Regions from separate parts of the Homo sapiens genome. Here region 1 is linked to region 2. The links come from fine-mapping of genetic effects on gene expression. A gene starts in region 2. The other region holds a variant in brackets. All regions are shown on one strand. Distances are between the middles of the regions.

Region 1 (4,250 bases), 22 kb before region 2:
GACAGTCCCCACCGCACCCATCTCTCCCCCATCTCTCCCCCTACCGCCCCACGTGCCCACCATGCCAGGCTTTGGTCCCCGCCATGCCCAGCTCTTCACGCACCGCCCCACGTGCCCACCGTGCCAGGCTTCGGTCCCCGCCATGCCCAGCTCTTCACCCACCACCCCACGTGCCCACCGTGCCAGGCTTCGGTCCCCGCCATGCCCAGCTCTTCACCCACCGCCCCACGTGCCCACCATGCCAGGCTTCGGTCCCCGCCATGCCCAGCTCTTCACGCACCGCCCCACGTGCCCACCATGCCAGGCTTCGGTTCCTACCATGCCCAGCTCTTCACCCACTGCCCCACATCCCCACTTAGCAGCTTAGCTTCTCCCTGCCTCAAGTCCCCCCTCATTTAGGAATGCTGACCGCAGCCGTCAGTTGGATGGAGGAGGGGATGTAAATCGTGCTGTGAGGGTACCCTGGCCACTAGCTGGGGGTGTGGTCGTCATGGCAGCTGCCTCCCCCGGCGCTGGGGCGTTGAGTTTCCTGTCTTTCCTATGAGAGGCTCAATTCCATGAGGGCCAGCCACCCCTGACCACTGTGTGCCCTCTGGGCGTCTCAGCCACTCTCTGGGCCTGTTTCCCCCCAGGGAATGCTGCTCACAGGACCCCTATACGGGTTTGCAGGAGGTCAAGGCTCTGTGACCGTGATGGCCCGTCCGGGGCAGAGACCTCATGATGCGGGTGGCACAGAGCAGCTGCGTGGTAGTCAGCTTCAGCCGAGTAACAAGCCAGCCCCAAACTGAGCAGCTCAGGCCAGCAGCCCTGCACTGTTTCTGTTTCTGTGGCTGCCTCAGCTGCGCTCTCCTGGTTCCCACGTGTCTGCGGTTAGCAGCCGAGGTGGCGTGGCCTGTCCACTGGCCGCACATGCTCCAGCAGGCCGGCTCCAGCTGCCCTCCGTGTCCCACATGCAGCCACAGCAGGACCCCCCACACGTGCTCTCTGGGCCACTGTTTTTGTTTTTTGTTTTTGAGCTAGGCTCTTGCTGTGTTGCCCAGGCTGGAGTGCAGTGGCGTGATCTTGGCTCACTGCAGCCTCATCTTCCTGGGCTCGAGCAATCCTACCTCAGCCTCCTGAGTAGCTGGGACTACAGGCGTGTGCAGGCGTGCATCACCACCACACACAGCTAATGTTTACTGTGTTTTTTTTGTAGAGAATGGGGTCTTGCTGTGTTGTCCAGGCTGGTCTTGAACTCCTGGACTCAAGCCATCCTCTGGCGTTGGCTTCCCAAAGTCTTGGGGTGGCAGATGTGAGCTGCTGTGCCCGGCCATGTCACATTTGCTAAGGCTTGGCCTGAGATTCCCAGAAGTCTCTGCCCTGTTGGGAGGAGCTGCGTCTTCACGCAGGGGCTGTCAGGCAGCGGATCTGTGGGTGCGACCATCCCGCATGGCTTTATTGGAATTGTAGATGAGGAGGGATGGGAATCCCGGCTGAGCTGGCTAAGGCCGAGCGAGTGTTAGGGTTTGCATGGCTGCAGGTCTGAGGTGGCGCCGTCTCCCCACTGTCTGCCCCATCGGGGGTGAGATGGTGCCGGCCCACAGGTTTCCATGAAATCCCAGGGCCCACCTTGGGTCACGTGCCCATCCTGGAACCAATGAGTGGCCGAGGCACGAAGCGCTCGGATTGGCCGGGCCTGGTCTTCTGGGCATGGGAGCAGGGCGGCATGAGACCTGGGAAGGGCCCTGGGCAGGTTGCACACCAGGCCATGCTGGACTCCTGCGGCTGTCTCAGCCTGTCTTTACTCCATTGCCTTCCTGTTTTCCTGCCCCTGATTTTTCAGTTGGCGACAAACAGCCCACAATTCTCAAATGGCGGATCCTATCGGCCACCAACGATCTGGACCGTGTGTCGGCCGTGGCGCTGCCCAAGCTGCCCATCTCGCTCACCAACACCGACCTCAAGGTGGCCAGCGACACACAGTTCTACCCTGGCCTCGGTACGGTGGAGCCAGCGGCAGCCACGCGGGGCCTCAGTTCACACCAGGGGAGTTGGGCCCTGAGCACAGGCCACGGGGTCGTGGGAGCTCACACCAGAGGACGTGGGCTCTGAGCACAGGCCATGGGGCTGTAGGAGCTCAGCCT[T/C]CTGGGTTCTGATGGGTTCCCAATTAGGAGGCAGATCTCATCTTTCGGGATCTGTGAGGCTGGCAGACAGATCCAGTGTTCTTTAATATGTAAAGAGTCATTGCAAATCAACAAGGGAGCCTGGGGAACTTGGTGGAACTCCTTCCTGGGTAGGCGGCATGTGTCCTCTCTGTGCTGCAGCAGCCATAATGTGGTCCTGAGCTCAAACCGTGGCATCCGTGCCCATGAGTGAGTCTGCACACTCTTCAGTGCCTACCCTATTTGCTCAGCTGTAAAATGTGGACAAGTCGGCCCTAGCTCAGGCCCTTTCTTCCCCCAGCTCCCGTTCTTCCCTGGTTCCCTGGAAAGAGCATTTATCAAAACCCGCTCGGGGCTCAGGGCTGTTCCTCAGAGCCTGCAGAGAGGTTGAGGGGATGCAGTTCCCTGCTCCAAAACCCTTGGTTTATGCTCCATTTTCCAGGCTCTATTTTTTTTTTTCTTTTTTTTTTTGAGTTGGAGTCTCATTCTGTTGCCCAGGCTGGAGTGCAGTGGTGTGATCTCGGCTCACTGCAACCTCCGCCTCCTGGGTTCAAGCGATTCTCCTTCCTGCCTCAGCCTCCCGAGTAGCTGGGACTACAGGCGCGTGCTGCCACGCCCGGCTAATTTTTTGTATTTTAGTAGAGACGGGGTTTCACCGGTGTTGCCCAGGCTGGTCTCGAACCCCTGAGCTCAGGCAATCTGCCCGCCTCAGCCTCCCAAAGTGCTAGGATTACAGGCGTGAGCCACCGCGCCCGGCTTTGCAGCCTCTCTACTGCAGGGACTCCTTTCATATTCTCTTTTCCATGAGCTTTGGGCTCTGGACCCCACCTCCCCCCGGCCCTCGTACAATGGCAGACCCCAGTGTGAGTGACAGCCCCAGCCCACCACCCTAAGATGCCTCTCTTTGGGACGCCAGGAGCCCCAACCCTTGGTCCCCCACCTGTAGTGCCCCCCTCCCCTGCGCTCCTTGAGGGGCGTGTCAGCCAGGACATGGGCCCAGCTGGGAGGGGCGGGGAGGGGCTGGGAGCAGTGTGGCCAAGGCTGCTGGCTCCTGCTCCCCTGGTGCTCAGGGACTGTGTAACTAAAGAAAGAGTGGCTGGGGGCACGGGCGCTGGATGCCGATTGGCGGGGGCTGACCCCCTGGATGGGCAGCCCCGGCTCTCCACACCCTGCAGAGCAGGAGGCCCCTCCCCCGGCGGGCGTGTCCTGGGCCCTGCCCATGTCTAAGCAGTGCCTGTGCCCCACAGGGCTGGCCCTGGCCTTCCACGACGGCAGCGTCCACATCGTGCACCGGCTCTCACTGCAGACCATGGCCGTCTTCTACAGCTCCGCGGCCCCGAGGCCTGTGGATGAGCCGGCCATGAAGCGCCCCCGCACCGCGGGCCCCGCCGTCCACTTAAAGGCTATGCAGCTATCGTGGACGTCACTGGCCCTGGTGGGGATTGACAGCCACGGGAAGGTGAGCTGCTGGGGCACGTGGGGCCGGGGCTGGTGGGCATTGACAACCAGGGGAAGGCGAGCTGCTGGGCATTGACAACCAGGGGAAGGTGAGCTGCTGGGGCACGTGGGGCTGGCCCTGGTGGGGATTGACAGCCAGGGGAAGGCGAGCTGCTGGGGCACGTGGGGCTGGGGCTGGTGGGCATTGACAACCAGGGGAAGGCGAGCTGCTGGGCATTGACAACCAGGGGAAGGCGAGCTGCTGGGGCACGTGGGGCTGGGGCTGGTGGGCATTGACAACCAGGGGAACGTGAGCTGCTGGGGCACGTGGGGCTGGGCTTGGGGGGCATTGACAACCACGGGAAGGTGAGCTGCTGGGCATTGACAACCAGGGGAAGGCGAGCTGCTGGGGCGTGGCCCTGGTAGGCATTGACAACCAGGGAAAGGCGAGCTGCTGGGGCACGTGGGGCTGGGGCTGGTGGGCATTGACAACCAGGGGAAGGCGAGCTGCTGGGGCACGTGGGGCTGGGGTTGGTGGGCATTGACAACCAGGGAAAGGTGAGCTGCTGGGGCATGTGCGGCTGGGGCTGGTGGGCATTGACAACCAGGGGAAGGTGAGCTGCTGGGGCACGTGGGGCTGGGCTTGGTGGGCATTGACAACCATGGGAAGGT
Region 2 (4,211 bases):
GTTCGAGGCTGGACCCGGGGTGAGGGTGCAGAGGGTGGGGGGGCTCCGAGCGCAGCAAGAGAGGTCGAGGCTAGACCCGGGGTGAGGGTGTGGGGGTTGTGGGGCGGGGTCCCCATGCAGCAGGAGAGGTCGAGGCTGGACCCGGGGCGCGGTGTAGGCGGGGTGGAGTGAGGGTGGGCCGGGGATCCCAGCGCCGCAGGAGGGACTGCGCTACACGGGGCCGACCTGTAGCAGCAGGAGGTCGTGGTCGATGGTGTCGGGCTGGCTGTCCGGGTGGGGCACTGCGCGGAGCACGTCGTACAGGCGCTTGGAGGGCTCCGGCTGCGACAGGGAGTGCGCGCCCAGGAGAACCTGCACCTTCCCGTCGGCCCTGGGGACCGGACGGAGTCCGCGGTCGGTGCCAGCCGACTCCCCCCACCGCACCCGGGCTCTTCCCCCGCGCGGCGCGGGCACTCACGCGTCCTCCAGGCAGTGCGCCGCGCTCAGCACCCACTGCTCCGCCACCAGGACGCCGCCGCACAGGTGCGCGCCGTTCAGCTGCACCGACGCCATGTAGGGCCGCGCGTGCGCCTCGGCCTCTCTGCCGCCCAGGATCCGACCACGGGGCGGCGCCGCTGTGGGTGGGCGGGCGCGTGAGGGCCGCGGGGTGGACTCCTCCCCCGGGCGAGGCTGCCTGACGGGATCCCAGCTCTCACCCCCCAGGCCGCTCCCCGCAAGAATCCCATCTCTGGGCGCGGTGGCTCACGCCTGTAATCCCAGCACTTTGTGAAGCCGCGCGGGGGCGGGGGGGGAGGGGGGGGTGCAGATCATGAGGTCAGGAGTTCAAGACCAGCCTGGCCAATATGGTGAAACCCCGTCTCTACTTTAAAAAAAAATACAAAATTTAGTCGGCGTGGCCTATAATCTCAGCTATTCGGAAGGCTGAGGCAGGAGAATCGCTTGAACCCGGGAGTCGGAGTTTGCAGTGAGCCGAGATCGCACCACTGCACTCCAGCCTGGACGACAGAGCGAGACTCCCTATCAAAAAAAAAAAGAAAGAAAAAAAAGAATCCCGTTTCCGTCTTGGGGCCCCTCAGCGTTGCAAACTCAGATACCCTCGGGCGGGAATGCCCCAGAGTACAGAACCCACAGTGGGCTGGGGACCGGGGGCAGATCCCAGCGCCCTACCCTGGGCGCAGTGCCTTCCAGTTGGACATAAGAGAAATGGGGCTGACCCAGCCAGTGCCTGGGCCAGCCCAGTCAGCCACGCAGATGAAGTTTTCCACGCAGACGTTCAGACTCTGTCTGCAAGAAAAGCTGACTCCAGAAAGTTCCGATTTCCAATCTGAATTTTCTAGAATTTTTCAGCGTTCAGAGCCTTCCATTAGTGAGGAGAGACACCCCCTTCCTGCCCACCTGGAGGGGCTGGAGGACCGTCCGTGTGACGGAAGGGAGCACCACGCCCCTACACAGCCCTGTCCCTCACCCCAGGCCCAGGCCTCCTCACCGCAGGCGGCCGCTCCTAGGAGGACCAGAACTGCCAGGCGCTCCCAGCTGTGCATGGTGAAGCCGCTGTGGCTGAGACACTGACCCAGGCAGGGCCCTGGGGGTGCTTTTATGAGGGTGGAGGGGGCGGGCCGCTCCCCGGGTGGGCAGCGGCCCAGCTGGGGAAAGGGGAACTCGCCCGCCCAGCCTCCGCCCTCCCCGGGACTGGGTTACCTCCTGCCAGACTCACACCAGAGTCGACAAGTCGCTGGGAGACCCTCGGGCCTCTGTGAGCCTGACAGCCTGCTGGCCCTGGTGGGGGGCAGTCCCTCAGATGGGCAGGAGGCAGAGAGGGGGGCTGCACCCACCCCGGCCCCAACTTCACCACACCCAGAGTCCCCCAGGGTGTTTCACAATCCTAGCTGGAGGCCACAGCGTGTAAACAACCCACTTTCTTGTCCTGCTACCCTCCCTTCTTTTCCTCCTCTATATTAGAGAGAAGGTCTGTTGGGGGTAGGAAGGTCACTTGACACCTTTGTCTCTGTCCCTGTGGCCTCTGGGGCTTGACACCCTGACGAATAGAAAGTTGGAAAGGCCAAGGCAGAGGCAGCTGGGAAGACTGGCTACAAGGGACAGGAAAACCCAGACAAACTGGGTGGAGCCTGAATCATGAAAGTTATATGGAAAGTTCAGGGATGTCCGCCTTCAGGTGTGGCTTGATCCAGGTGCCTGAACAATGTCCAGTGTCTGCTTCTGGCTTCTCCTTTCTTCTCTGATGGCTTCTTTCCTCACCAGCCTCCCCTGGTGTGTTTCCAGGGACCCCACACTCAACCCAGTGGCTCAGTGGGCCCCTCCTAAAATTCTTCCTCACTCCAGCCAAGTCTCAAGGGTGCCTTGGGTTGGTGGAGCCTGGATCACACGCCCCCTCCCAAACTGTTCACTGAGGGCAGGTTCTGATGAACAGAGTCAGGGCTGGCCGGGCACAGTGGCTCCCACCTACCATCCCGGCACATTGAGAGACCCAGATAGGAGCATCTCTTGAGCCCAGGAATTCAAGGCCAGCTTGGGGAAGACGGCGAGACCCCATCTCTACAAAAAAATTAAAATAAAATACTTCTCAGAATCTGGGCCATAGGGCCTTTTGTGAGGTGGGGATTTGTGTGTGTTGTTTTTGTTTTATTACAGACAGGGTCTTGCTCTTTCATCCAGGCTCGAGTGCAGCGGTGCAATCATAGCTCACTGCAGCCTCCTCGACCTCCGGGGCTCAAGTGATCCTCCCACCTCAGCCTCCAGAAGTGCTGGGACTGCAGGCCTGCTCATGGTGTAGCTCCATTTTTCACATCTGCCCCACAGGGGCCAGCGGGATTCACGTTGCATTAATCCATGGTGCGGGGACCAGAAGGATGGGGATACCTTGTGGGGAGGACCTCAGACATTGTCCCCAGGGGGAGCAGCACACGAGGTTCCCCCGGCTTTTCTCTTCACCATGGATCATTTCTTTCTTTTCTTTCCTTTTTTTTTTTTTTTTTGAGACGGAGTCTCGCTCTGTCGCCCAGGCTGGAGTGCAGTGGCGCGATCTCAGCTCACTGCAAGCTCCGCCTCCCGGGTTCACACCATTCTCCTGCCTCAGCCTCCGGAGTAGCTGGGACTACAGGCGTCCGCCACCACGCCCGGATAATTTTTTGTATTTTTAGTAGAGATGGGTTTCACCGTGTTAGCCAGGATGGTCTCGATCTCCCGACCTCGTGATCCGCCTGCCTCGGCCTCCCAAAGTGCTGAGATTACAGGTGTGAGCCACCACGCCTAGCCTCATTTCCTTCCTTCCTTTCTCTGTTTTTCTCTTTCTTTCCCTTTCTTTTTCTTTCTTTCTTTCTCTTTCCTTCTTTTTTTCTTTCTTTCTTGCTTTTTTTTTTTTTTTGCGACAGAGTCTTGCTCTGTCGTCCAGGCTGGAGTGCAGTGGCACAATCTCGGCTCACTGCGACCTCCACCTCCCGGGTTCAAGCGATTCTACTGCCTCAGCTTCCCGAGTAGCTGGGATTACACGCATGAGCAACCACACTGGGCTAACTTTTTGTATTTTTAGTAGAGACAGGGTTTTGCCATGTTGGCCAGGCTGGTCTCGAACCTCTGACCTCAGGTGATCCGCCCACCTCGGCCTCCCAAAGTGCTGGGATTACAGGCATGAGCCACCATGCCTGGCCCCCTGTGGATTATTTCATACGCACAGAGAATAGAAAATGATATAACAACAGGGCTGGGCGTGGTGGCTACGCCTGTAATCCCAGCACTTTGGGAGGTCAAGGCGGGCGGATCACGAGTTCAGGAGATCGAGACCATCCTGGCTAACACGGTGAAACCCCGTCTCTACTAAAAATACAAAAAATGAGCCGGGCGTGGTGGCGGGCGCCTGTAGTCCCAGCTACTCGGGAGGCTGAGGCAGGAGAATGGCGTGAACCCGGGAGGCGGAGCTTGCAGTGAGCCGAGATCGCGCCACTGCACTCCAGCCTGGGCGACAGAGCGAGACTCCATCTAAAAACAAAAAAGAAAAAAACACAATGTGGGGAAGTCACTTCTGCTCCATTGCCCTGGCTGTGCTGCCCCCTGGTGGTGGCTTACTCCAGAGATGCCCAAGAGACTCTGGATTCTAGTTTGTTGTTTATTATTATTATTATCATTATTATTTATATTTATTTATTTATTTATTTATTTATTTATTTATTTATTTATTTATTTTTGAGATGGAGTTT

What was found.
Region 1: its variant is fine-mapped to the expression of CFD in whole blood (TOPMed, PIP 0.99).

Annotation. Positions count from the first base shown.
Region 1 is chr19:879,287-883,536 of GRCh38, reverse strand. It overlaps MED16 (mediator complex subunit 16), which reads left to right. Exons shown (of 16, transcript NM_005481.3): 7 at 1,823-1,978; 8 at 3,389-3,600. Among named protein-coding and RNA genes, the nearest start is that of MED16, 12 kb to the left of the region's middle. The variant T/C (reference allele first, on the strand shown) is at 2,124.
Region 2 is chr19:857,020-861,230 of GRCh38, reverse strand. CFD (complement factor D) reads right to left here and starts at 1,567. Exons shown (of 5, transcript NM_001928.4): 1 at 1,487-1,567; 2 at 458-614; 3 at 226-370. The coding sequence starts at 1,541.